Linked DNA regions of Homo sapiens. The protein of the gene in region 1 interacts with the protein of each later gene in a pairwise test. Each region holds a gene or a part of one and is shown on either strand. Other genes may lie near its edges.

The links. Proteins that work in one complex are often made in the same cells at the same time.
Region 2: the proteins of KRTAP3-3 (region 1) and NUFIP2 interact in binary tests that used the Homo sapiens proteins (3 or more experiments, as listed by UniProt).

What each region holds. Positions count from the first base shown.
Region 1 is NC_000017.11:40,992,930-40,995,438, forward strand, and holds KRTAP3-3 (keratin-associated protein 3-3), read right to left. Parts: upstream 1,236-2,509; 5' UTR 1,169-1,235; coding exon 872-1,168; 3' UTR 501-871; downstream 1-500. UniProt on the Homo sapiens protein: In the hair cortex, hair keratin intermediate filaments are embedded in an interfilamentous matrix, consisting of hair keratin-associated proteins (KRTAP), which are essential for the formation of a rigid and resistant hair shaft through their extensive disulfide bond cross-linking with abundant cysteine residues of hair keratins.
Region 2 is NC_000017.11:29,287,649-29,291,148, forward strand, and holds part of NUFIP2 (FMR1-interacting protein NUFIP2), read right to left. Parts: intron 3,387-3,500; exon of another isoform or gene 3,130-3,386; intron 69-3,129; coding exon 1-68. UniProt on the Homo sapiens protein: Binds RNA.

The sequences.
Region 1 (2,509 bases):
GATAATTATTAACCGTAGGAAGAAACAAATGGATGTTGTGTTTGTATTTGCTTCACCTGCCAGATGGTTAGCTTATTTTCAGCAGAGACAATAAAACACAGGACACACAATAGACATTTAATAAATCTTAGTTGAATAAATAATGACATTATTATATTTTTTTCATAAATAGATCATGTCACCTGGATTAGTTTATATATTTTGTCATATTTGGTGTTTGGGTAATGTTCAGTATTTCTCAACCTGTCTGAAACCATTTTTTGGGAGGACAAGTCAGGAAAAGTCTACTTTCAAATATGCCGATGTACTAGACCATCTTACATGCAAGGATGTTTAATTTTCTTAAAACAGCAAGAACAGCAAAATTAAGAAATTTTTGTCCATACTGCCACCATTTTCAGTTTCACTAATGTTTCCAGTTTTTCTTTAAATGCCAATGTTCAGAGTTAAGAAACGCATTTAATGAATGAACAGAAATAAACAGAAGTAATTGTAGACACTTGTGCTATGCCAGAGATGTAAAATTTATTAGGATAATCATGAAGAACTTCCTTAATTTTCAGAAAGATACCACCCAAGACTGAAAACAGAATTCCCAAACCACCCACAGAAAGAGACACTTTAATATGAAGGAATCGAACAGCTTCAGGAAGCTATAGGCATCCACTGATTCAAACTGCAGTTGGTTATAGCTGAATGGTCATTGAAAGTTTCTTGGTCTCTTTTTTTTTGCAGGGGGTGATTGTGGTAGTACCATCCTTGTTCCAATTTCTAAAGCAGAGTACATTAGTTGTAGGTACTGAGATAGGTGAATGCTAAAGCTTCTATGTTGACTTTTTCAATCTCAGGCACTGAGCAAAGTAGCCATCCATTAGCAGCCTCTTGGGAGGCAGGGCTCACAGCAGGGCTGAGTGAAGGTGGTGAGGTTGAGGGTCTCCAGGCCTGGAGTTGGCTGGCAGGAGTTGAGCAGGAAGCAGGTGGGCACGCAGGGCTGAGGAATGTGGCAGGGTGGGGGACAGTTGTCACAGCAGGTGGGCTCCAGTAACCAAACTGTGTGTGGGCAGGTGCTGGGCAGGCAGACTCCACAGCGGCAGGATTTGTCAGAGGAGCAGATGGTGGTGGCAGGCCCGGTGGGGACACTGCAGCCTCGAGAGGCACAGCAATCCATGGCTATTAGAGTCTGTGGTATTTATGGGTTTGATTGAAAAGAAGGATAAGGCTTCTGAGGTGTGAATATCTCTCCTTTCTCTGGGGCTCTTATGTACCCTCTCCACTGGGAGTTGGTCCAGCCAAGAGGCTTCTTTCCTGGTTCTTGTTTATGTTAGTGTACCCATTATTCTTTAATTTGTTTGACATTTAGACTCTGTAAAGAGTCCCCATTTTCCTAATTAACTTTTATTTGAGTTCGTTGCTAAATCTGAACTGATTACCCTTGCTATTTGTCACTGGAACACAAGCTTTATGAGGTATCACCAAAGCCTTCTGTTATTATATTTTCAACACCAGCCCTGCTGGGGAATATTGCATGACAGTGAGTCTGTAATATGTGGGCCTGCTCTCCAGTGCTGCTTTATTTTTAATCTGTCACTTTATCTATACCAATTTGTCTGATAAAGTATTCTTGTTTTAAAGAGTTGAACTTAATTTTACTTTCTTTTAGCTTTGAGGCTTTTGAAGATCAAAATTACATTAACATGAAGAAATATGCCATTAAGAAATATGGAAAAACTTTAAAAAACGCTTATTATTCTAGTTTTTTACTACAAAATATTTTGTATACATTGTTTATCATTACATTACATTACTGGAATCATATTGTGCATAGGTTCTGAAACTTGCCTTTGTGTGTGTGCATATATATTATATATATATATAATTATCTTATATTTTAAAGGATATTTGATAGTGTTACTTTTAATATTTCTTAGCATTTATTATATAATTGCACTTCTATGTTACTTTAAAATTTTATATTATTATGCATTGAGGTTATTTTCCACTTTTCTCTACAATAATTTTGGCAACAGAGCACCTCTGTATGTAAATCTTTGTGCATATTTTTGATTATTTCAGAAACAGAATTAATTATTTGGTAGAATTATAGGGGCAAATGTTAATTTCCAGTATTTTTAAGGCCTTTCATATCATTGCCATACTGTTTTTCAGAATGGTTCTATTTACCTACTTTTTTTTTCAAATTATCTATTTCCACCAGATGTGTTTGATTAAGAATTCCCATTTCGTATACCTTTGACAGATACTTTATTTTAAAGGTGTTTTCCAATTTCATTGGTGAAAAACACAATTTTATGATTGTTGTGTCTGTATTTCTTTTATAACCAGCTAGGTTGAAATATTCCTTCATATGCATATTGGCCATCTGTCTTCTATTGAGAGTTGGCTTGCTTTGTTTCCTTCACTGCTAATTGTGGGCAAATTGAATTTTTAGCTTCTGTCTATATAGACTAAATAAAATAATAACTTAAGAATACAAAACTAAAATTCAAGT
Region 2 (3,500 bases), about 12 Mb from region 1:
TTCATCAGAACTCAGGTTCTTTAAAGATATTTCTCTTTCTCCAGCATTACCGTTTAGTTCACCATAGCCTAGGGGAGGGGAAAAAAAGGATTAAAAAAAAAAATCACAACATGTAAATTACACTAATACCTAACATTTAAGAACTATTTACTGTATGCTAGACACTATGCTATGAGCTGTAGCTTTATATTATTTCACATCTCTATGAGAAGACACCTGTCAGCCCCATTTTACAGACTAGGAAATGCAACCTACTGCTAAGCAAAGCAAGAGGTAGAACTCAGCGAAGATTCAAACCAAAGTCTGAGGCCAGAGAAGACAAGACCTCTTAAGCAGTATGCCAAATACCTCTCATCTAACAGAATCAATCTACCCATCACTCTCACAAGGCTGTTATAAAATTTTCTTTTTTCAAGACGGAGTCTCACTCTGTCGCCCAGGCTGGAGTGCAGTGGCGCTATCTCCGCTCACTGTAAGCTCCACCTCCCGGGCTCACGCCATTCTCCTGCCTCAGCCTCCAGAGTAGCTGGGACTACAGGCGCCCACCACCACGCTCGGCTAATTCTTTTTGTATTTTTAGTAGAGACAGGATTTCACCATGTTAGCCAGGATGGTCTCGATCTCCTGACCTTGTGATCCGCCCGTCTCGGCCTCCCGAAGTGCTAGGATTACAGGCGTGAGCCACACGCCCGGCCTAAAATTTTCTTTACAATTCAGAGCAGAGATGCCCTCTGGGCAAAAATCAAGTTTTATTGAAACAGTAATTATTACAAGGAAATTAAAGACTTCATTTCTACAAAACCATAAATAGCTGGTAGTCACTATCAGCAGTTTCCAAGGCATCTATCAGACAAATATCTAACACTTGTCAACTTTTTCTAAAGTATTCTTAAATTTCATTTTGACATTTCCCAGATATTGGATATTGTTAATACGTGAAACCAAAATATCTACGTACCAATGTTTCCAACCTTTATAAAACATACTTTCTTCATTTTACATTTAGATAAAAAGACTTTAAGAGAGATGAAGTAAATTGCCCAAGTCAAAGTGACAGAACTGGAAATCTGACCGCCAGTCTATCTGCAATCCATGGTTTCCTATCACTATGTAATACTGCCTTGACTCAAAAGATGCAATGAGAAAATATTTACTAACAAAACAACAATAAAAAGAATCCAATTTTTTAGTGTTATGGTATTCAGGTTTAATTAAAAGTCTTCAACTGCCAGTGGATCATGTCTGTAAACATAGCACTTTGGGAGGGCCAAGGCAGGCAGACTGCTGGAGTTCAAGACCAGCCTGGGCAACATGGAGAAACCCTGTCTCTACTACAAATACAAAAATTAGCTGGGCGTGGGGCATGTGCCTATACTCCCAGCTGGGGGAGCTGAGGGAGGAGGATAGCTTGAACCCAGGAGGTCGAGGCTGCAGTGAACATGCACTGAGATGGCACAACTGCCTTCTAGCTTGAGTGACAAAGTGAGACCCTCTTTCAAGAAGAAAAGAAAAAAAAACCTTCAACTACCATAAAAAGTCAATTCTATTATAGGTGATTCAAATAGTTTTCCACTGTAACAAAATGGTGCTATTAGTTATCTACCTTTTTATGAAATGTTCATAAAAGCATCTTGAGGTCAAGTCATTAGAAACAGATATACAGGCCGGGTGCAGTGGCTAATGCCTATAATCCCAGCACTTTGGGAGGCCAAGGTGGGTGGATCATTTGAGGTCAGGAGTTCAGGACCAGCCTGACCAACATGGTGAAACCCCGTCTCTACTAAAAATACAAAATTGGCCAGGCATGGTGGTGCACGCCTGTAATCCCAGCTACTTGGGAGGCTGAGGCAGGAGAATGGCTTGAATCCGGGAGGCAGAGGTTGCAGTGAGCCCACATTGGGCCACTGCACCCCAGCCTGGGCAACAAGAGCAAAATTCCACTTCCAAAAAAAAGAAAAAAGAAAGATACACAATAGAAGGACACTCCACACACATTTAAGGCAGCAGGAAGTGAGGAGTCTAATAGGAATACTGCCATTTTTATAAGTCTGAGAACCATTGTTCCAAAATAAATTAATGGAGAAGTCTATTAGATTCACAACAGGACTTACTCATTCTACATTAGAAAAAAAAGTACAAATACTAAAACTGAACAAATAAAGGCATTTTCTTCTCCTGTATTAAAGTAACCCAAGAAAACATACTCAAGGCATAATCATTCCTAAAACAGACTGGCACAAAACTTGTACCACGAGAGAATACATCTTATAACAGTTATTTTTTTTCTTTTTTTGAGACAGATTCTCGCTCTGTGGCCCAGGTTGAAGTGCAGTGATGTGATCCCAGCTCACCACAACCTCCGCCTCCCAGATTCTCCTGACTCAGCCTCCAGAGTAGCTGGGATTACAGGCATGCACCACGATGCCCAGTTCCGCCACGTTGGCCTGGCTGGTTTCGAACTCCTGACCTCAAGTGATCTGCCCGCCTGGGCCTCCCAAAGTGCTGGGATTACAGGTGAGAGCCACCACACCGGCCTCTTAGATTTCTTAGAACTCTTAAGAGTTCTTAGATTCCACAGGGTTACATTTTTAAAAATTTTTTGGCTGCTGGAAAAGCTATGATAGCCAATCAAATCAAATTTTTGGTGGCACAATTTTAACTATGAAACAGCAAGAAAGAGATTATTGCTTAGGATGTTTTCTAAAAGCTTTTTTCCTCAGAAAAATCCCAGGCACAGTGGCTCACATCTGTAATCCCAGCACTTTAGGATCCCAGGCAGGTGGATCACTTGAGGTCAGGAGTTTGAGACCAGTCCGGCCAACATGGTGAAGTCCTATCTCTACTAAAAAAAAGAAAAAAAAAATCAGCTGGGCATGGTAGCATATGCCTGTAATCCCAGCTGAGACAGGAGATTCGCTTGAATCCAGGAGGCAGAGGTTGCAGTGAGCCGAGATCATGCCACTGCACTGCACTCCAGCCTGGGCCACAGAGTAAGGCTGTGTCTCAAAAAAAAAAAAAAGAAAGAAAGAAAGAAAGAAAGAAAAGCATAAAGTTCCTAAATAAAGGCTCTTCTCATCATTTTTAACAGATATAACTTTATCTCCTTACCTAACTCTGGATAAGACCTACCTGTATCATTTAATATGCTAACAGGTTAAACAAAGGTTTGTATCCTTGGGCCCATTAGTCACAACTTTTCAGATTTCAATTAAAGATGAGCAATCTGAAATAGCAAAAAATCCAATCTCCAAACTGAGCTGAACCAAAGCTAACAAGAATAATTCTTCCTAAGATTACTAGTATGTAGCGACTCAGATACTGGAAATCACCAAACAATGAAAAAACGGCTTAGAAGCCACTGTGCTCCCGCCCGCAAGTTTTAATAACAAAAAAAAAAAAAAAAAAGAAAAGAAAATCTTGTTTAACTACATAAAGTTTTTCTCATGACAACCTTGTGATATGTATGAAGTATGCTGGAAAGAAATTTTCTTTTTAAATAG